4 separate regions of the Homo sapiens genome follow, and all the other regions are linked to region 1. The links come from fine-mapping of genetic effects on gene expression. A gene starts in region 1. Each other region holds a variant in brackets. All regions are shown on one strand. Distances are from middle to middle.

Region 1 (5,707 bases):
TCACCATTTGTTGTTGTTGTTGTTTTTGAGACGGAGTCTCGCACTGTTGTCCAGGCTGGAGTGCAGTGGCGTGATCTCGGCCCACCGCAACCTCCGTCTCCCGGGTTAAAGCGATTGTCGTGCCTCAGCCTCCCGACTGCCTTCACTGTTTTTTGAAACTTTGTGTTTTGCTTTCTAATTGGAGTAACTGGCCTTGGAACCTGTAGTCAGTCATTTGCCTCAGGTTTACCTGCCAGTCCCACCAGTCTAAAGCAAGGGAATTGGGACCCCCTTGTCTTGAATGGGCCTAAGAGGAGCCATCAGTTCTCCTTTTCCCTTCTTGGTGGACAGTCGTTTAAAACTTGGAGTATGGACTGTATGTTCTTAGATGTTTTCGTTCGGTGGACAAAGTGATCTGGAGCATTTCAACTGCAAGTCTGCCTTCTTCCTTGGCTGACTCTGGTATTTTCATTATGACTTCATGTGTCTTTGTCTACTTTGCTTTTATACATTTATTTATTTAAAGTGCAACGTAGGGGCCGAAAACTTTAGTACCTTTCCTCACCACCCATTGTAAGGATCACAGCCACCACTCCTTAAAACAGAAGATAGGTTAACAAGGTAAAAGCAGAGCAAATCTAATCAAAGTTTTACACCACCAGGCACTTCAGAGACCAGGGAGATCTCTATTTTTATGCGTAGGACCCATGAAGAATAGACAACTGTGTAAAAATGTGACTGGACAAAGGATATACTCTAATGTTAATAAACTGAGGAAGGAAGCCCAGCAAGGTCTGTTTGTTCAGATTCTTCTTGGCCTCTCTGTGTATCATTTCTTCCTCCTACGGAGGAGGAAGGTCCCTTCTGGAATGAGGGTCTTAGCGACCTACTATCAGGCAAGGTAGATTAGAGAATTTCTTTATGGCCAGTTCCTATAGACAATGGCAGGGAAAGCTTAATAGTTCCAGTTTTTATGGCTTGCTTTGTAGGAGAGGGATCCTAGTTTCTATCACTCACCTTGGGGAAGAATTCTGGTTTCTGTGACTCACTTCTGGGACGAAAGATGGGCAGGAGACAGAAGGGCAGGAGATCAGAGGGAGAGACTGCTTCCGAGGCTGCTTCTGAGGCCTTCCAATCTCTTTTAGTTCAAAGTATTCAGCATGCCAAAGTGTCATACTTCGGGGTAGTATTTTCTGAGCCCCAACACAACCCTCAGAGAGTGGGATCTATTTGCCAAGAGTATTCTTCTGTTGTTATGGTTGAAACTGCCTGGTAAGGTGGCAGATGTATGGTATTTAAAACTTAGGAGTTGACTGGAAAAATGGTAGAATCACATTTCAGCAAGTTGTTGGACTAAATACAGTCGTGCGCCTCCTAACAATGGGGATATGTTCTGAGAAGTTCATTGCTGGGTGATTTTTTTCATTGTGCCAACGTCATAGAGTGTACTTTCATAAGCCTGCTACACACCTAAGGCTATATGGAATAGCCTATTGCTCTTAACCTAGAAATCTGTACAGCATAGTATTGTACTGAATACTGTAGGCATTCGTAACACAATGGAAAGTATTTATGTATCTAAACATAGAAAAGATACAGTAAAATAAAGTGTTAACAATCTTTGGGACCACTTGTATATGCGATCCATGGTTGACTGAAAGCTTTTATGCAATGCATAATTGTGTATGAAACATAAGAAACTACTCCTATGCTGAGATAACTGCATAAATTTACTTTAATAACCCCTAATTTCCATATTTGCAATAATTTCCTATAATCAGTATTCTTCCCCTCTCATTTCTGGAATATATTTCCAGATAAGTTAGAAAGTTTATCAGTACATTTCCCTATGTTTTTAAGTTAAGTTTTTATCCAGTAGAAACTAGTCTGTTGGTCTGGATTTGGTAGTTGCACATTATGGTTCCTTCTTGTGCATCATATAACAATAGTCATCATCTTAGTATTTTCGATTCATACGTATAATACTCTCTTCAAGCTGCATTAGAGGAAAGTAATTACTTGTATTTGATTTTAGCAAAAATAATTTAGAATAATGAGAATGTGCTCTCTGCTTATATATTCAGTTTCACTATCTGTCATCAACAACCTTCATTTTGTATTTATATCTTTATGTAGCTATTATTCCCTTTTTGTTATCAGTCCTTCTTAATTTTTCCATAACAAACCCTTTAGCCACCCAAGTATATGTCTTACTCAAGGTTTTAAATCTTTCACTATATTGTAAGATCCACAAGGACAGGGGTTTTTCTCTGTTATTTTTCCTATAGTATCTTCAACTAGAGAACAGAACCTGACACATAGTAGGCACTCAATAAATATTTGTTGAATTCATGATGGTGGTTGTACCAGCAAGGACTAAAGATAATTCTTTGCTCCTACTATGAATTTTCCCTCCTGCGTCACACATACATCAGAATTTGCTGTTGGATTATTTGTGTGTTTGTGAGAATTATAAAGGCATTAATGAATGTCTTATATACTTGATTTGTTATATCATTATCTCATTTCTTTGTAAGCAATGGGTTTTCTTTGAAATCACCTGTGTGATTTTGCTAATTTCAGCAGAGCAGGCTGACTTTTGTTAAAAGTGGGGAATCCTCCACAGATCATCTCACATTCTTCTTTTGCCACCCAAATAAGACATATTTGTCTTACTGCTACTGTATTTTATTACTACTAATAGTTTTTCTTCCTATAAGCATATGAATGATATCAGTAAGCGCAATTTGGTTTTAAAAATCAACATTCTACGTGTGGGTTTCTCTAGTAATTTGTTAGTTTATTTTAGTTTCGCTTTCCTGGTTTCACTTACCACAATTTCACTTACCAGAAGTCAGCTGCGGTCTGAAAATATGAAATGGAAAATTCCAGAAATGAACAATTAATAACTTTTAAGTTGCATACTGTACTGTGTAGTGTGATAAAATCTCATGCCATTGTGCTCCATCCTGCCTGGGGCCACGAATCATCCCTTTGTCCAGCATATCCACACTGCATATACTCTACCTGCCTGCTGGTCATATAATAACATGTAATGTCACTCACTTATTTATTGAGCACCTGTTATAAGCTAGTTAGTGCGAAGTCCCAGGGTTTACAGTGGTGAACAGAACAGACTAGGCTCCAGCCTTTATGGGTTTGCAGTCTGGTGCAGGCAGGCAGATATTAAACAAATAATTATGCAAATACATTTAATTTAAATTGTGATAAAAAGATATGAAAGAAAAAGAGTACTATGACAGTGTAGGGGGAGCTAATACTAGACTGGGCAATCAGGAAAGGCCACCCTGTGAAAGTAACTTTTATAGAGATCTGAAGGATTGAGCAAGCGTTAGCCAGGTAAAGGTTGGCTGGAAGGTGGGGAGAGCTGTTCAGACAGCAGAGATAGTGTGAGCAAAGATCCTGAGAAAGAAAGGAGCTTGGTGCTTGAGAAAAAGAGAGAAGCCTATGTGGCTGGGACACAGTGCACCAGAAGACAAGCCCAGGAGGTAGGAACCAGGCCATGCATGGATTTGAGGCACATGTTTAGGATTTTGAACTTTATCCTTAGAGGAGTGGTAACACATTGAAGGAAGTGTCATGAACATATTTATGTTTTTAAAAAGATTACTCTGGCTGATGTGTGGAAAATGAGTTTATGTATTAGAAAATATGGTAGACGTAATAATGGCCTCCTAAAGATATCCACATATTAATACCCAGAATCTGTAAATATGTTGTTACATGGCAAAAGGGAGGTAATTAGCTAATCAGCTGACCTTAAGATAAAGAGATTACCTTGGATTATCCAGGGGGGCCCCAAAGTAATCGCAAGGGTCCTTAAAAGTAGAACATGGGGACAAAAGACATGGAGTGACTATGGAAGAATGGTCAAAGAGATACAACATGGCTGACTTTGGAGATGAAGGAAGGAGGTCACAAGCCAAGGTATGTGGGTAGCTTCTAGAAGCTTGAAAAACCACGGAAATAGATTCTCTCATACAACCTTTAGAAGGGAATCAAACTCACCTTGATTTTAGCCCATTGAGATGCATGTAAGATTTCTTCAGAAATGTAAGAAAATAAATTAGTGTTGTTTTTAAGCCACTGCGTTTGTGGTAATTTGTTCTAGCAGCAAAAGAAAATACTGAGGGGGATAAGGGGCTGTAGGAAGACTAATTAGGAGGTTATAGTGTAGTCCAGGGTAGAGACGAAGGTGACTTGGACTATGTGGGGAAAGTATGAAGTCACCTATGAAGGTGACTACTAAGTGGGGAGAGAGGAGATCAATTCAAGCTGCATCTTAGATGATGACTTAGCTTTCTGGCATGGGCAGCCAGGAATAAGATGTTTTCACTGAGCCATATGGAAGATAACAGGAGTTTGGTTCTGGACTCACTATGTTTAATGTGCCTATGAAGCATCAGGTAGTAAAGTTTGGAAGGCAGTTGGTTAGGGAGGTAAGTCTGGAGCTCAGAGAAGAAGGCTGGGCTGGAAATTGAAATTTGAGCCTCAGTGTCTATAGGTAGTCTGTCACCCAAGCTGGAGTGCAGTGGCATGATCTCGGCTAACTGCAACCTCTGCCTCCTGGGTTCAAGTGATTCTTGTGCCTCAGCCTCCTGAGTAGCTAGAACTACACATGTGCACCACTACACCTGGCTAATTTTTGTATTTTAGTAGAGACAGGGTTTCACTGTGTTGGCCAGGCTGGTCTTAAGCTCCTGGACTCAAGTGATCCACCCGCCTAGGCCTCCCAAAGTGGTGGGATTACAGTCGTGAACCACCGTGCCTGGCCCCCAATAAAACAGTATTTTAGAAATTAATGTTTTTATTATCATTGAGAAGGATGATTTTTTTTTTGCAGCTTCTTACAAAGTACTTATATCTAATTTGATAATAGTTTGAGATGTAGGTTAGACCACATTTTGATTACTCTGTATGTCTACTAAATTAGGAAATGTTGTGCCACAATTATAGATTGTCAGGAATTGCAACTTGTGTTTGCTGGCGCTGTCAGATGTTTAGGAATATCAAGGTCAAATACAGACTGAAAAATTATCGGAAGATTTCTCCCTGAAGATTATATCTTGTGCTCTTTCAGTTGCGTTATTGAGAAGCCTGTAATATTAGGGTGAATGTTTCAACCAGCCTGAATGTTTGGAAGATAGTAACAAATGGATTCTTAAGTCATTTTTTGACTTCTTCAGTATCTGGAAAGTATTTTCCCATGTTTTGTTTTAACATTTAGTCATGTTCTTTATACACACAATAGTGTAATCAGTCTCACTCTAAGAAGTGAAGAAAACCATCAGGTTTTGGGAAGGAATCACATCCTAGCAATTGAGCCATTTGCAACATAGCTTGGTGACTTTGAAAAATATGGTATTTTATTCTCAGCATTAAAAATCAGGGTATTTTGGCCCTGAAGTAGTAGGTTCACGCTATTTAAAATTCTAGATATATCTCTGCTATACTCCACTTAAGCAGGCCTCTAGAAAACATAGAATTACTTTTTGGTATTGTCAGCATTATGAAGAATTTTTTTGTTTTTTAAAATCTCATCCCTCATTTCAGAAACTTGTCAGCACCTTTTTTCCTTGACAGCCAGCAAACTTGCGTGGGAAGAATAATCTTGCAAACGCTGCCATTTCCTTCTGCAACATCTGAGAGCGCATACTCTGAATAGTCAATATTTGATGATGTTTAATTTCCATTATTTCCTTCAACA
Region 2 (5,707 bases), 81 kb before region 1:
AATAGAAACTACAAAAAGAAATGGTGGAAATAAATCCAAATATATTAGGAAACAATAAATGTAAGTGAATTAGACTCACTAGTTAAAAAATGATTGCCAGGTTCAATTTTTTTTAATAAAAAGAAAACTTGCTTATGCTGTTTTAAAAATACATACCTAAGACAAAAGGACACAACAAAAAGGCTGAAAGCAAAAGGATAAAAAGAGATATACCAGGCAAGTAAGAGTCAAAACAAAGTGTAGCTATAATAACTGTAGCAGAAAAAAAGTCTGAGGCAAAAAGTGATCATTATATAATGATGAAAGGATCAATTTATAAGAAAGATATAACAAATGCAAATTGTATTTATCTATTATAGACTTTAAAAATGTATAAGACAAAATTTGAATGAATTACAAGGAGAAAATTTTGAATCTTTATAGGAGATTTAAAAACACACCTTTCTGGTATGTTCAAATCGCATAAAAATTGGCATGAATTTACAAGATTTGAATGACACAATGAACAAGATTGATCAATCTTGTATTCAACAATTGAAGACTGTACATTTTTCTCAAATGCACAAGAAATATTTGAAAAATTAACAAGTTACTAAACCACAAAGCAAGTCTTAACAAACACCAAAAAATAAATACCATATAGTTCACCTTCTCTGATCAAAATCTAATTAAGATAGACATGAACAACAACCAAAAAAGTGACTTTAAAAGAAAACAACACCAAATGTTTAGAATTTAAAACATTTCTAATTAACTCGTGGATCACAAAAAAAAGTATAATAGCAATAAATAAATATTCAGACAGAACAAAATTTAAAATCCTACATAAAACTGGAGGAATATAAGGTACAGAGAACAGTGGTTCTGAATAGGGGGACTTTTGCTGCTCAGGGGACATTTGGCAGGTCTAGGGGCATTTTTGGTTGTCACAACTACGGGCAGCTGTTACTACCATCTAGCAGGTAAAGGCCAGAAATGCTGCCATCCCTACAGTGCATAGGACAGCCCCCTACAATAAAGAATTATCGGCCGGGCGCGGTGGCTCACGCCTGTAATCCCAGCACTTTGGGAGGCCGAGATGGGCGGATCACGAGGTCAGGAGATCGAGACCATCCCAGCTAACACGGTGAAACCCCGTGTCTACTAAAAATACAAAAAAATTAGCCAGGCGTGGGGGCGGGCGCCTGTAGTCCCAGCTACTCGGGAGGCTGAGGCAGGAGAATGGTGTGAACCCGGGAGGCGGAGCTTGCAGTGAGCCGAGATGGCGCCCCTGCACTCCAGCCTGGGCGACAGAGCCAGACTCCGTCTCAAAAAAAAAAAAAAAAAAAAAAAAAAAGAATTATCTGGCCCCAAATGGTGACGGTGCGTAGGTTAAGAAACCTTGACTTAAAGAAAAAGTTATGATCCTAAATATTATATTAGAAAAGAAGAATGATAACTATGCCGGCGAGGTTGAGGATGGATTAGAAAAGGGAGCCCGTTGGCAGAGAAAATTAGTAGGCTATTGTAATAATTAAGACAATAATGAGGACGTAGCCTAAGGCTTTGGCAACAGAAATAGAGAAAGAAAAGAGATTCAGGGTAAAATGGACAAGATTTGGAGATAAATGAGGCAGAGAAACTAGTAAAAACAGAAATGGCTCAGTAGAGACACTCCAGGGTGGGAACAAACCACATAGCTTCACAGATGCATTAGTGTGCCACGGTAGACCACGGGGGCTGGTCCTGATGGGCACCCGCAAGCAGTGCGCCCCAGGGAACAGGGCATCAATGCGGTGTGGGCTCCTGCGGAGTCCAAGAGCCTGCCCGAACTGCAGCGGTGCCCCAGAGAAAAAAATGAGGTTAAGGCCGTGTCCAGGGAGGTGGGAAGATGCAGTGACGCGGGCTCTAGAGACAGGATGCAGTGAAGAGAGGGGAGGGCATTCTTTGTGAATTCTCAGGCACGAGATCACCTGAGGTGCGGGCGTGAATGGGCTTGGTCCCCAAATCCTTGCCTGGTTTACAGGGATACGATGCAAGTCACGGAAGAAGAGTTTCCAATTACACCATGGCGGAGAAGAAAGAAAGAAAATGACACAACCACACGTACCACAGCTCAGAGTTTCAAAGACCACGTTAAGGTGTGATTCAAACAGCCATTGTGCAGCTCAAGCACGTTCCAGACTCAAGTCTGTGTAAACAGAGTTATATTTACTAGCACAAGGCCTGAAATAGAAATCCCGCAGCAAGCTCCTCTCTCATTAACGGGGTCTCTTTCACACCCTAGGGGATACCCATGAGCGGGCTGTGTCAATTGTTAGTGCCAGAAACAGTGGCTGGTTGAGAATGCCTTTTCTTTCACATTTTACAGGGAAATTCACATGGAACCAGATTCAATAGTCTCGCGACATCCTTGTTAGAAACACTTAGATTTTTCTCTTTTTGGCAGTAGCTGGTCTCCATGAGTTGATGTTTGGTGTCAGAACAGCCTCAAACAGGTGGCTGAGGGAATTTGTAGGCTCGTTTAAAATCGTGCTTAAGATACTCACAAAAGCAACTTCTCTAGGCCGCTTTGAAGGTCCTGGGACATTTCTGATCTAAAGAGGTGTTTTGTGGTTTGTTTTGTTTTGTTTTGTTTTTTTCCTATCTAGATAAAAGATAATGTTAGTCAATGCAGCTGGCACTTTTTATTCATTTGTTTCCCATCAATCTCTGTCTTTCTGAAATAGACACAGATCTTTATTTGGTGTGTCAGTGTGTGGGAGAATGGCATGCAGACACAGGATAACAGGCACAGAGACAGTGCCTGGTCTATGTTCATGTGCTGTCCTCTGTTCAGTTGTCTCTCCTGTTCAACTGTCTCTGTGAACTAACAATATGTAGAACATCCCCTAAGTAAATGGTGGTGGTGGTCGTGAGGAGAAGAGAAAGCAGAGAGAAAGACCAAGCGATGTAGGGCAAGAGAGATTAAAGATAAAGAGAGGAAGAGACAGGGAGAATGGCAGGAAGGAGAGGAATGAGTGGGGCCATTTTCCACTGCTCTTAGCCGGCAGTTTCTGGGCTTTCAGTCTGCGTGTGGACAAGACATG[T/A]CCGTGTCTCTGAGAATGGATCTACCTGGTTTCCTGGGTCTGCTCCTATTTGGGGCCTTAGGGTTATGAGGGAGGAGTGGAAGGAAAAGGCGATGGCAGCTTTAGTTTCAATGGGTGCAGAGCTGGGATGGTGGAGGGAGGCTGATATCACTGCCCGCCTGGCACTGGGCACTTTTCTTACTCTACCAAGGGTCAGGAAGGGAAATTGGTGGGACTTGTACAGACTGGCTGAAATGTTTGTGGGCTGAAGTGATTGTTAGATTTCAACTTTAAGATGTTAGCCTATTTGAAAGTTTCTTTGCCTACAAAGATGAATTTCTTAGCACTCTTCCAGGAAAAACAAAGCTGTTACAATGAAAAATTTCTCTTTTATCTTGTGGAAGAATTCTTTATGAATACCTCCCTGTATATCATAGTACCTTATGTTTATTTAAGTTATTTTCACAGCTGCAATGTCGTCTGGTTCTGTAAGGAAGTTAAAGGTATACTGTATCTCTCTTTCTAGCCCTAGGACATAGGTATGCTTCCTTCTTTCTGATGATAAGAATTATGTAATTGGTCATTTCTTATTACTTTGGTTACCAGGAAGCTCAGAACCAAATTTGTAGCACAAACATCACTTATTCTATTTGTTCCTTGTGTTGATTTTTCCCTGGGTCTGTTTTTCATTTGTTTCAAAGTATACATTGCCATTCTATTCTGAGTTTAATAAGAAATTAATTGCATTCATTTAACAAATATTTATTTGTTACCGAAACACCAGGGGTTTGGTCTAGGTCCTGCTGCTTACTGCACAGAAAGCCAATAACTGAGACGATTATTGCCAAGGAAGAAGGCTTTTGTCGGGTGCTGCAGCCAAGGAGATGGGAGCTCAGTCTCAAATCCATCTCTCTGACCAATTAAAATTAGGGGTTTTTATAGCAGGGAAGAAATGTAACAATGTGTCAGAAAACAAGAATTAGGAAGGGGTAAGGAAACAAAATGGGGGACCTGGTGTCATTGTCTTGATGTAGTTCTTTGATCTGGTGAGTTTTAGTTCTTTGATACTTTGAGAGGCCTGGGGGTCCTTTCCTGAGGAAGGAACTCAGATAAAACAAATGCAAGTTTCAAGCTTTAAGATCAGAAGGGTCCATTTTTATGTTTATCCAAAAGAACTGTCTGTGGGGCTGCTAGGTTGGTTTCATACTGATTCCCTCATTCTCTATTCTTCTCGGTTTTATTTATCTCCACATCCCTCAATACCATCTAAGTTATATCTCTTATTTATTATTTATTGTATACCCTCTCACTTCCTACCACTGTCAATAGAAATTAAGCTCCAGGGATGCTGGGTGCGGTGGCTCACACCTGTAATCCCAGCACTTTGGGAGGCCGAGGTGGGTGGATCACAGGGTCAGGAGATTGAGACTAGCCTGGCAACATGGTGAAACCCCGTCTCTACTAAAAATACAAAATTTAGCCAGGCATGGTGGTGGGCGCCTGTAGTCCCAGCTACTCAGGAGGCTGAGGCAGGGAAATCGCTTGAACCCGGGAGGCAGAGGTTGCAGTGAGCTGAGATTGCACCACTGCACTACAGCCTGGGTAACAGAGTGAGGCTCTGTCTCAAAAGAAAGAAAGAAAGAAAGAAATTAATTTAGCTCCGTGAAGGTAAGGACTCCACTGCACTCCAGCCTGGGTGACAGAGCGAGGCTCTGTCTCAAAAGGAAGGAAGGAAGGAAGGAAGGAAGGAGGGAGGGAGGGAGGGAGGGAGGGAAGGAAGGAAGGAAGGAAGGAAGGAAGGAAGGAAGGAAGGAAGGAAGGAAGGAAAGAAAGAAATGTAGCTCCGTGAAGGCAAGGACTTTTTCTCTTTTTTGTTCCATACTGTATTTCCAGAGTCTAGAGCAGAGCCTAGCATACTGCATGCAAAATACCTGTCGAGTGAAGGAATTACCTATTGTATGTCAAGTTCTGTGCTAAAAGATGGGAATCAGAGATGCAACCTGTGCAGTCTCACAGGGCCTCAAACTCAGTCCCCTCACTTAGCTTCACGCGCTGCTGTCACTATCATGAAATTCTTAATATGTTTTGAACAAGGAGCCCCACACTTCCATTTTGCACTGGGCTCAACAAATTCTGTGGCCAGTCCTAATGGAAACAGGGTTATTACTTTCAAGGAGGTTTTGATCTACTTGGAAAGGAATTATTAAAAAAGATACATATCCAGTGGCTCATGCCTGTAATCCTAGCACTTTGGGAGGCCAAGGCAGGCGGATCAGTTGAGGTCAGGAGTTCGAGACCACCCTGGCCAATGTGACAAAACACTGTCTCTACTAATACAAAAATTAGCTGGGTGTGGTGGCAGGCGCCTGTAGTCCCAGCTACTCAAGGAGACTGAAGCACGAGAATCACTTGAACCTGGGAGGCAGAAGTTGAAGTGAACTAAGTTTGTGCCATTGCTCTCCAGCTTGGACGACAGAGTGAAACTGTGTCTCAAAAAGAAAAAATATATCTATTTACCCTAAATATTTATTTTAACACAAACGATGTATATGTATGTATTTATATCTACATATCTACATGAATCTTTTGATGCAGAGCCAATGCCTTTTTCTTTGTCATCTTTCTTGTTTAAACCACACCCTTAACGCATCATCTATGAT
Region 3 (5,707 bases), 27 kb before region 1:
TACTTTTTTTATGGAACTGGAAATGCTCATATTAAAATTAATGTAACAGAACAAAGGTTCAAAAACAATTTTGGAGGAAAAGAAGTGGAGGCAGCTGTCCGACTAGAGAGCAAAACATTTTATAAAGCCATGATAATTAGATGGCATGACTGTGGCACAGAAGCCACAAACTAACAGAAGACGAAAGAGAGTCCAGACACAAGCCCATACATATATGGAAATCTGAGATATGAGAGATGGCATGTTTTCACTTTTGAGATTGTGGTTCCACAAACAACAACAAAATTCATGGCTTCTTTGATGAAAATGAAAGTCTCACGCACCCTCAAAATAATGTGCTCTCCTAAAAGTGTCGAGAATTATAGTATTGCCTATATATAGCTCTGGTAAGCAAAACAAACGTATTCATGAACAAATTGCTTTGATTTTTCTTTTCAAATAATTATTGTATTGCTTCTATATGCTATAAGTCGTACTTCACTTCCTCCCAAGATTCTGAAATGTGCACCACTCTTGGATCCGCAGTCCCTCCCAAATGGGTTGGCATCTCTGTGCCAAGCAACAAGAAGCCTAAGAGGAACTCAAAACAGGGGGCTGGCATGATCGGATGTGCATTTTAGAAAGATCACTGGGCGGTGGGAGGATGGGATACAAAAGAAAAATAACATGCCCTTAAACCCTTGTCCTAAAGTGTTTAAATTGTAGCCGAAGAGACACCAAATACAGAGTGTAAAGGACAAAGAACCTTCACAGCCCATCAAAGAGTGCACTAGGAACTCACACAGAGAACAGCAGCATTGCATCCTGGGAAGTGGCAAGGAACTAGAGGTGGATGGCTGGGTTTTGTCACTCCAGCACTTTGGGCCTCAATTTTCTCAACTTTAATAGTGGGATGATGTCAATATCTACTTCCCAAAGCTGTTACAAGAATTAAACTATAAGTTCTATCTGCAAAGTGCTTTGCTGACTGTAAAAAACTACCTAGATATGAGCCAAGGCCAAGTACACAGACGTGTGTTCTAGTTCTGAGCTACAGTGCTTACTCTAGCAGTGAGATTAATGTCATTGACTTCTTTGCTCCTTACCTGACTTGGATTTCTACATGTGAGCAAGGTCAAAGGAAGGCAGTTTGATAACTCAGAAAGAATCACCAAATCTTCTGATTGGAAGGCATCTTTGAGGTTATTATTTCAGTCTCCCACTCCATGTAGGAATCCTCTCTACAAGTTCCTGACCCAGGTGGTTGTCTTATCTCCGCTTGCACCTTGCTGTCATGGAGATGTTACTCCCTCACAAAGCAGCTCAGCCTGTCTGTGGACAGTGGGCATTGTTAGAAATAGAGCTGAAATCAGACTCCCTTCAGCCTCTGTCCACTTGTCTTAGTTCAGCCCTCTGGAACAACACAAAACTAATTCACTCCCTTTCTCATTTGACAGCTTTTCAAGGGTTTGAAGACAGCTATCAGAGTTGTCTATGTGTGCCCTTCTCTGGAATAAACGTTCCCGGTTTTCTGAACTGCCCCTCTCAGGTCGTGGTTTCTAAGATGCTTCACTAGTCCAGTTATCCTCCCTGGACTGATCACTGCTTTGTCAGTATCCCCTTTTAAAATCTAGTGCCACCTTCCTGCCACCACATCTAAGTGGAAACAGCCTAAATGTCCAAGAGCAAGTCAATTCAAACAAATTATGGCATATCTACACAATAGTATGTTGTATAACTATTAAAACTGGGTTTCAAAGAATATGTAAGTTGAGGAAATAATTCAGGACATAATGTTAGTTTTTTAATGTAGAATATAAACACTACCTAACCCACATTTTTAGTACTTCCATGTGCCTCATGGAACACAAGTCTCCAGAAGAGACTTGAAGGACATATACCAAAATGATAACAGTAGTGATCTCCAAATGATGAGAGCTAATTTTCGTTTTCTTCTTCATACATTTCTGTACTTCTAAGTTTTCTACTATGAATATATTTTGCTTTCGTGATTTACAAAATACAAAGACCACAAAGTTGAATGTGAAGAAGAAACATGGTACCAGGAATAAGCCCTCATGCTCTGAGGCAGATGGGCCAATGGCACCCTCATCACCCTTGCTCTGCCTGTTACAATTCCCCTTATGCTACCTGGCAAACACTAGTTGTTTTGTAGCCATGTCAGAATTTTTTGGCTCATGTTGGGCTTTTTGTTAACTACAATCTTCAAGACTTTTTCCCATTAACTATTGTCAATAATTTGAATAACTGAGTTTTTTTTTTTTTAATCAATATGAAGAACTTGCATTTTCTCCATTAAATTCCATCATGCTTATTTTGGCTCCTTGTTCAGGCAAACCACCATATCCTGTTTCTGTCATG[C/T]GGCATATTACTTAGACTTCTTCATTTTGTGTCAACTCATATTTATATGTTGGCATCTCTTTCATGTCATTGAAAGGATTTTCACAGAACCGGGCACCAAACAAGGACTAGCGGCATCTTGTGCTACACCTCTCTCTGAGTTGACTTGGCCCCGCCTGTCCAGTGCTTTTTGGATACAATGGTTTGCCTAGCTGTGCCTTCACCAAGCCATAGATCACCCAGGCCCTATCCATTCATTGTACCATAAAATGTGTTGTCGGAAGCCCTGTTGAAAGATTCACTACCTCTGGGACAATCTTGAGAGTTTTGGTAATCTTTCAAAAAAGAAAAAAATGTGAAGTGATGTTAGTATGACATGGTTTGTTCTACATAACCTGTGCTGGCTTCTTGAGATTACCACTTCCTTTTCAAAGCGATTGTAATCTAACTCCTTAATAATGCAGCTTACAGTTTGCTGGGGATCAAAGTTAAACTCAACAGTGCAAAGTTCCCCAAACCTACATATTTCCCCTTTTGACAACTCGGACAGTTGCCCATCACTAATCTTCTGGCATCACTCCTGAGATTCCTGAAAGATTACTGACAATCATTCTATGATTAAATCTACAAATTCTTTCAGTCCCCAGGGATGGAATTTGTCAGGGCCTGGAGATCTAAGCTTATTTAGAGAGCCCAGGTATTCATTTTCTAAAGAGCTTCATAACTAGGGCTGCAATTGCTTCTTTGCAGTGTTTATATTGTTCTTTCCAGTTTGAAGATCATTCTGAGAGATAGAGATGATGGAAGCTAAGTAGGAGTTGCATAATTCTGCTTTGTATCTGTCATCTGCTAGCATTACACCATCTGCCCCAAGCACAGGATCTGGCCCTTCCCTATTCTTCCTGCTCAGAATATACTTGCACAAAGCTCTTTTTGCTGTTCCTGAGCATTTTTTGCAAGTCTCAGCTCATTCTGAGCCCCAGCCTTGCTAACACTATGGCTACAAGCCTGTGACACTCTTTGCTTTTCTTCTCCGGTGATGTGCCCTGCTTAGTGCTTTTGTAAAGGCTCTTTGAAAACCTGAGAGTGCTGGAGGGCTTCCCCTGCTGGCTCGGGGTCTTCCCTTTGCTTCCTAGTCAGGATCACTGGAGACTGTATTGCCAGAATTTAATTTTGGAAAGAATGTTGCTTTAATGCTTCTTCTGTCCTCTCATTCTTTGAAAACAAAACAACAAAACAAAACAAAATAGTACAACAACAACAACCACCACAAAAATCACAGCTGCAAATGAGGTCTGATTAGAAACCAGTACAGTGTATTTAGGCTCATCATGGTAAAAAAAAATCTGACAAATGATAAAAAGCGTTGCTTAGTTTGCTTTAAATAAGAATGTGGAGGAACTGTTTTTTCTAGTTCATTGTGCAATGAGAAAAAAGGGAGGGAGCAGAGATCCAAAAAACAAGGACAATTAATATTGAGTAGCAACTACGTTCTTTCATTTAATCTTCATGTCAGTCCTGGAAGCACTGTCCTGATTTAGAGATGGAGAAAAATGAAGCTTAAGTTAAGTGACTTAGAGTAACTTTGTAAACCAGTGGGTAGAACCAAGGGTCAAACTCAGGCAGTGTGATTGGACTGCTCATGTGCTTTTTCCTACATTACGGGTATAGGTAAGCAGCTCACAAAACCATTCCACCCAAAGATGTGTTTTTTGGACCCTATGGCATTTAAAAAAATGTTTAGATTTATTGCCGACATTTATAACTTAGGAGATTTTACGTTCACTTCTAGAATCCTAGCTACTTTTGAGAACCTCTGGCCCTACATTTCCCCCATGGAAACCATTGGCCAAGTGGAGTAGTGGCGATCTGCCCTCTCCAGGTTGCCCCAATCCCCACCTTCCCCCTCATTTATATTCCCCGCTTGGTCCTGTTAGATGTTTGAGTTTGCACTGCCTTAGGCTATGCTGATACTCCATTGTTTTTCCTGGTTTCTGAGAGAAAGCCTTCTGCCATATGGAAAAGAAGGGAGCAAAGGTTATGAAAATCAAAGATATGTCTCTTGCACTCAATTCGGCCTTATTATTCCCCTGGAAAGGGCCTCCCAGAATCTTAAGAGGTTCCGAAAAAGAGTGTGCTTGTTTCACTCAGCTTGTCCCAGGATCCTCCATTCCCAATAATGGACTCCCTTTTGCACTGTGTTTCTTAAACCACAGAGTCTAACAAGAACATCATTCAACTTTTTAAAGCCTGTATGTATGGGCAAGAGAGCCTGTTCATATGACCTTCTAAATAGGACTCTTGGGCACGATCAGAATGTCTGGCTAAGCCTGCCTTCGTGGTTAGACACCACTAACAGACCATTGAAAATATGCACGTCGTAGATCATAGAGTGGACAGAACCTAGGCTGAGGATCAGGAAATCTGTTTTTTCATCTTGGTTCTGGTGTTAGAGGGATACCCAGTGCATAGAACATCACAGAAACACAGACCTCAAGGGGTAAGTCCAGAATGGGGGCTGGTAGTTAGAATGAAGACTATAGAGGGAATCTGAATATCATTTTGAAGGGAGAGATCCATCCATTCATTCAGTCACTCTGTGAATATGTATTTATTATGCACACACTACATGTCGGACACAGTTTAGGCAATGAGAATTCAGAATTGAACCAGACAGACAAAAATCCCTGCCATCATGGAACTTACATTTCAGTAAGGAGAGATAGACAAGTGAAAAAACCAAGTAAGTAAATATCTTTGGTCAACTGGTAATAAGACTGTGGGAAAAATCAAGCAGGGTAACTGATGGTTATGAAACTTTGAGGCTGGGAGAGGGGGGTATTTAAAGAAGGTAATCAAGGCCTCTTCACAGGGAAAGTGAAATTTCAATTCAGGCCTGAAGGAAGTAAGAAAGCAAGCCATGGGGATTTTTTGAAGAAAAGCATTCCAGGTGAAGGGAAGAACAAGTGCATAGACCCCGAGGTGGACTGTGCCCGGCATGTTTTAGGGCGAGCAGAGGCCAGGATGGCTGGAGCAGAGTATGCAAAAGAGACAGCCATTAGACATGGAGTCTGACAGGTGACAAGCGCCCATACTGTGGAGGGACTTGCAGGACATCGTGTTGAATACTGATTTTTGCTCTTATTATCCTGGGAGGCAGGGAAGTGACATGATCAAGCTTATAGTTGAACAGGATAACACTGAGAATTCTGTTGAGAATAGTATGTAGGCAGCTAGGGCAGAAGCGGGAGAGCAGTTAGGGGGCTGTCACATAGTGGCTGGGCTAGGGAGTAGCCTTGGAAACAGCAGAACATGGTTCTATTCTGCACATAATTTGAAGGTAAAGTGAACAGGATTTGCAGAGGCA
Region 4 (5,292 bases), 36 kb before region 1:
TGAGATGAATTTTAGATGTTTTTAGAACAGAAATTCTACTCAGTTGAATTTCTGTTTTTGCCATAGCCATGCAATCGAGCTGGAGGAAATGAAAGCACAAGTAACTCCCACCAGAATGAAAACCTTTTTGTTTCTTCCATGTCACAGAGCCTTCATTCTGTTTCTGAGGAAGAAATAGTATCCTGAAGGATTCCAGAAAAGTTGGACAATTAGACAAATATTTTTGCTCACACAGCATGCCATTTGGTACCAAAATTACATCCTCTTTGTAAAAAAAGGAACAAAAAACGTAACCCTTCTCCTGAGATAGAATTATAATTGATAGAAAGATAGAACTGAGTTGTTATAACTGTAAAGCATTTACACATATTAGAGCTTTTTCCATCGTATTTTTACTTTGCTCGAAAGATAACGGGCCGGGTGTGGTGGCTCATGCCTGTAATCCCAGCACTTTGGGAGGCCGAGGCAGGTGGATCACGAGGTCAGGAGTTCGAGACCATCCTGCCTAACACAGTGAAACCCCGTCTCTACTAAAAATACAAAAAAATTAGCCGGGCGTGGTGGCGGGCTCCTGTAGTCCCAGCTACTCGGGAGGCTGAGGCAGGAGAATGGTGTGAACCCGGGAGACGGAGCTTGCAGTGAGCCAAGATTGCGCCACTGCACTCCAGCCTGGGCGAAAGAGCAAGACTCCCGTCTCAAAAAAAAAAAAAAAAGAAAGATAACAACTCGTGCTAACATCCTCCTCCACTCTTTTTTGAAGAATGCCATGAAATTGAGGAAGGAAATGAGACTGTCTCATGTTGCCTTAAGAGTTGTAAAAACCACACTTTTACAAAAGGTGTATTGGAGTATGTCAATTGTCTTCTGCACAGAGTTAGCTTAATGGTAGTTATATAAGGCAAACTTCAGGATAAAAATTTGTCCGCTGCCTTCTCTTTATTTCTAAGTGCAGTGGATAAATATAGCACATTCATGTTGCCCAAAGCAGACACTTAGATAAACAGCAATTGTTATGGACATAACAATATGGCAATAAACCACATGTACTATATGCTTACTTTATCTTGCACATCATATGAATCATTCATTCATTTACTCAGTACGTGTGTACTGAGTGCATACTTTGTGCCAGGCCCTTTGCTAACTTCCAAGAATATGAATATGGAAAAGACAGTGTCTGTCTTCAGGAAGCTCTCAGCCTACCTGGAGGAGATTATAAGTACTAAAATTCACAATTCGATGACATTAAGTAGTATATAGAAATAGAATATAGAGGAATACAGAGAGCACTACATAAAGGTATGTAACAATACCAGCTGCACAGAGAAGGAAGAAGTAACTTAATCTGTGGGATCTGGAGCCAACTTCCCAGTTGAAATGAGTTTTCATGAAGGTCTTGAAGATGAAAGGTGTGGCAGGAGGGCTGTTCTGGATATGAACGTGCCCCAAAGAATAAAAGCACGTGCTGTGTTCAGGAAACAGGAGGCAATTTGATGTGAGTGAAGTGCGGGGTGCCTAGCAGTGGGAGTGGGAAGCGGATCTGAATTGTGAAAGATCTTGCATGCCAGCTTAAGCTTATATTTAATTTTTAGATAAAATTATATGAAATGGACCTCCGGTCAAACGGGCTCCCCTTAATTTCACACTTCTTCACATTCCCTGTGTTCTAAGTAAAAGACCATGAAAGACAAAGTATAGACAAGGAAAAAACAAACCTAATAAAATATACCCAAACATGGCCGGGCGCGGTGGTTCACGCCTATAGTCCCAGCACTTTGGGAGGCCAAGGTGGGTGGATCATGAAGTCAGGAGTTCAAGACCAGCCTGACCAGTATGGTGAAACCCTGTCTCTACTAAAAATACAAAACTTAGCAGGGCGCAGTGGCTCACGCCTGCAGTCCCAGCACTTTGGGAGGCCGAGGCGGGGGGATCATGAGGTCAGGAGATCGAGACCATCCTGGCTAACACGGTGAAACCCCGTCTCTACTAAAAATACAAAAATTAGCTGGACGTGGTGGCGGGTGCCTGTAGTCTCAGCTACTCGGGAGTCTGAGGCAGAAGAATCACGTGAACCTGGGCAGCAGAGGTTGCAGTGAGCCGAGATCGCGCCACTGCCCTCAAGCCTGGGTGACAGAGTGATACTCTGTCTAAAATAATAATAATAATAATAATAAAAATACCCAAACTTGAAACCAAGAAGAAAGCATCTTTATGGATGACTGCAAGCATGAGGGGGGTAAAGCCGTGGGCTTGCAGGGCTCTGGACCCCAAACCAGGCAGCGATGGGAAGGAGTGTGGCTTGGATAGGATAATAGAAACTAAGTGTCTACTCAAGAAACGATAGAACCAGGCTAACTGCTGAAAGCCAGGCGTTCTCAGAAGCTGTGGAACTACAGCGATCCAAGACCCGGCCTTCTAAACAGGAACTGATTAGAAATTTAAAGCTGATATGAAGCCAGCTGATTCAAAGCCAGCTCTGTGACTGGCTCTGTAATATTCTCAATATCACTGTGGGCCAGGAGCCCCAGAAAACTATCTTGAGACTCAGCTGTGGACCAAGAGTACAGCGTGCTGGGTGAAAGCATCTGCAAAACTTCTCAACTGGGTACAAGAAAAAGCAGAACAAGTGAAACAAAACAAAATGCCTTCCATTCAAAATAAGCCTGCAGACTTTCCAAAATATATGTAGAAAATAAGCGCTAAGAAAAACAGTCAAGAAAGTCAATAGTTCACTCCAGTTGAGAATAATTTTATGAAACAGTATGTCAAGGACTTAAACGGTAAATTGAACAGTAAGACTTGAACAGTAACACTTAAGGTGACTAAAGACGTGGAAAAGGAATTAGATGCCTTAAAAGTGAACAAATATTGGGAAACAAAACAGGGAGAAATGGAACAACACAGTATATCAATTACCTTCGGCTGCATCACAAACCACCCCCACAACTTAGTCACTTAAAAAACCAACCTGCATTATTTCTTATGATTCTGTGAGTTTTCTGGACAGTTCTTCTGATGCAAGCTGGCTTGGCTGGAGCTCAGTGGTCTAGGATGGCCACACTTGCACGTCTGGGGACTTAGCTCAGATCATTCAGACAGCTAGGGTCTTTCTTTTTGTGATTCTTTAGGAGGCTAACCTAGGCTTGCTTCCGTGTGA[T/C]AGCAGGGTTTCCTGCAGCCAAAAAAGGGCAAACTCCAATGCACAAGAACTTCTCAAGCCTCTGTTGAATTATATATTTGCCAATGGCCACTGCTCAAAACAAGTCACATAGACAAGACCAGATTTGAGGCTGCAGAGGTATACCCCACTTATTGATAGTCAGAGTGTCAAAGTCACATTGCAAAGGGGCATATATGAAGGGATGGGGCAAATTTGGGGCAAACCACCACATGTAGACAGGGAAAGCAATCAACTGAAAATTTTTGAACTTAAAAATATATTCTGGAAATAAGAAAGCCAATATTTACGATAATCTCTAGACTAGGCACAGTTTAAGAGATAATTGGTAAATTGAGAGTACTGACAAATTTACCCAGATCTAGTACAAAGAGACAAAGAAATATAAAATTCAAAAGAGCAGAATAGTTATGAGCCCTGCAGGACAGACTGAGAGACTCCAACACATCTCTAATTTGAGTACCAGAGAAAGGAAAAGAGACTGGAAGAAATGAGAGAAGTCATTATTTGAAAAGATTGTAGCTTAGAATTTTCCAGAGTTAGAGAAAAATATGAGAACTCAGATCAAAAGTGCACTTTGATGCAGGTCCACATCACAATGAAACTGCAGAGCATCATTAATAAAAGGAAAAGCTGCCAGTGGGGAAAAATAGATTACTTAAAAAAGATTAACACTTAGACTGAAGTTACATCTTACATTTTTCTATGAAAAATTTAAGGTGTAATAGAATAGAAACCAAGAAGGTAATTGAACCCGAGAAGATAATGAAGCCATACCTACAAACTGCTGAGGGAAATTTCTATCTAGCTAATTCTCATTCAGCAATGAGGGATGGGCCAGGTGCTGTGGCTCTCACCTGTAATCCTAGCACTTTGGGAGGCCGAGGCGGGTGGATCACGAGGTCAGGAGTTCAAGACCAGCCTGGTCAAGATGGTGAAACCCCATTTCTACTAAAAATACAAAAATTAGGCAGGCTTGGTGGCGGGCACCTGTAATCCCAGCTACTTGGGAGGCTGAGGCAGAGAATTGCCTAAAGCCAGGAGGCGGAGGCTGCAGTGAGCTGAGATTGTGCCACTGCACTCCAGCCTGCGTGACAGAGCCAGACTCCATAAAAAAAAAAAAAAGGAATGAGGTGTGAAGTTAAAATTAAAGAAAATAGTAATAAAACAGAGGAGGGAAGACTTTAACAGATACAGAATATGTATGACCACCAAGAAGAGAATAACATTACCAAAAAAGTTTAGATTTGTTCATACAAATAAGTGTATAACTGTTAAATATTTAAAGATAGGGATAATCTTTTTTTTTTTTTTTTTGAGGTGGAGTCTCGCTCTGTCACCCAGGCTGGAGTGCAGTAGTGCAATCTCAGCTCACTGCAAGCTCCACCTCCCGGGTTCACACCATTCTCCTGCCTCAGCCTCCCGAGTAGCTGGGACTACAGGTGCCCACCACAACGCCCGGCCAATTTTTTGTATTTTTAGTAGAGACGGGGTTTCACCGTGGTCTCGATCTCCTGACCTCATGATCTGCCCGCCTTGGCCTCCCAAAGTGCTGGGATTATAGGCGTGAGCCACCGCGCCCGGCCCTAATATAGGGATAATCATTTAATGAGTAGAAGTGCACAATATAGATTTCAATCCAGGCAGAGAAAAACGTAATTATAAAAACTTTATCACTCCAAAAGCGCAGAGGAAAACAGGGAGAAAAAAGTAGCAAAGAAAAACATAATAAACAGAAAAAATAAAAGAAGATAATGTAGTCAGTCCTCCATATCCACAGCTTCCACATCTTTGGATTCAACCAACGTGAGATTAAACATTTTTTTTAGTTAAAAAGAAGAATACAGCAATAAAAATAACACAAATTTAAAACATACAGTATAGTAAATCTTTACATAGCATTTACATTGTATTAGGTATTATGAGTAATCTGGAGATGGTTTAAAGTATACAGGAGGATGTGCATGGATTACATGCAAACACTATGCCATTTTATATAAGGAACTTGAGCATCTGTGGATTCTGGCACCCACAGGGAGTCCTGGAACCAATCCCCTGTGGATACCAAGGAATGACTGTAATAACTCACAATACTTGCCAGTGGATTAAAGCCAACC

What was found.
Region 2: its variant is fine-mapped to the expression of PARP11-AS1 in whole blood (TOPMed, PIP above 0.99).
Region 3: its variant is fine-mapped to the expression of PARP11-AS1 in whole blood (TOPMed, PIP above 0.99).
Region 4: its variant is fine-mapped to the expression of PARP11-AS1 in blood mononuclear cells (TOPMed, PIP above 0.99). The same link has a PIP of 0.9 or more in T cells, lung and whole blood.

The regions. Positions count from the first base shown.
Region 1 is chr12:3,867,246-3,872,952 of GRCh38, reverse strand. It overlaps PARP11-AS1 (PARP11 antisense RNA 1), which reads right to left and starts at 2,781. Exons shown (of 2, transcript NR_183432.1): 1 at 997-2,781. The region is part of intron 1 of PARP11 (poly(ADP-ribose) polymerase family member 11); the gene reads left to right.
Region 2 is chr12:3,947,961-3,953,667 of GRCh38, reverse strand. The region is part of intron 2 of LOC105369608 (a long non-coding RNA gene); the gene reads left to right. Among named protein-coding and RNA genes, the nearest start is that of LINC03141, 61 kb to the left of the region's middle. The variant T/A (reference allele first, on the strand shown) is at 3,069.
Region 3 is chr12:3,894,566-3,900,272 of GRCh38, reverse strand. All of the region lies in intron 1 of PARP11-AS1 (PARP11 antisense RNA 1), which reads right to left. Among named protein-coding and RNA genes, the nearest start is that of PARP11, 24 kb to the right of the region's middle. The variant C/T (reference allele first, on the strand shown) is at 2,362.
Region 4 is chr12:3,903,058-3,908,349 of GRCh38, reverse strand. The region is part of intron 1 of PARP11-AS1 (PARP11 antisense RNA 1); the gene reads right to left. Among named protein-coding and RNA genes, the nearest start is that of PARP11, 32 kb to the right of the region's middle. The variant T/C (reference allele first, on the strand shown) is at 3,158.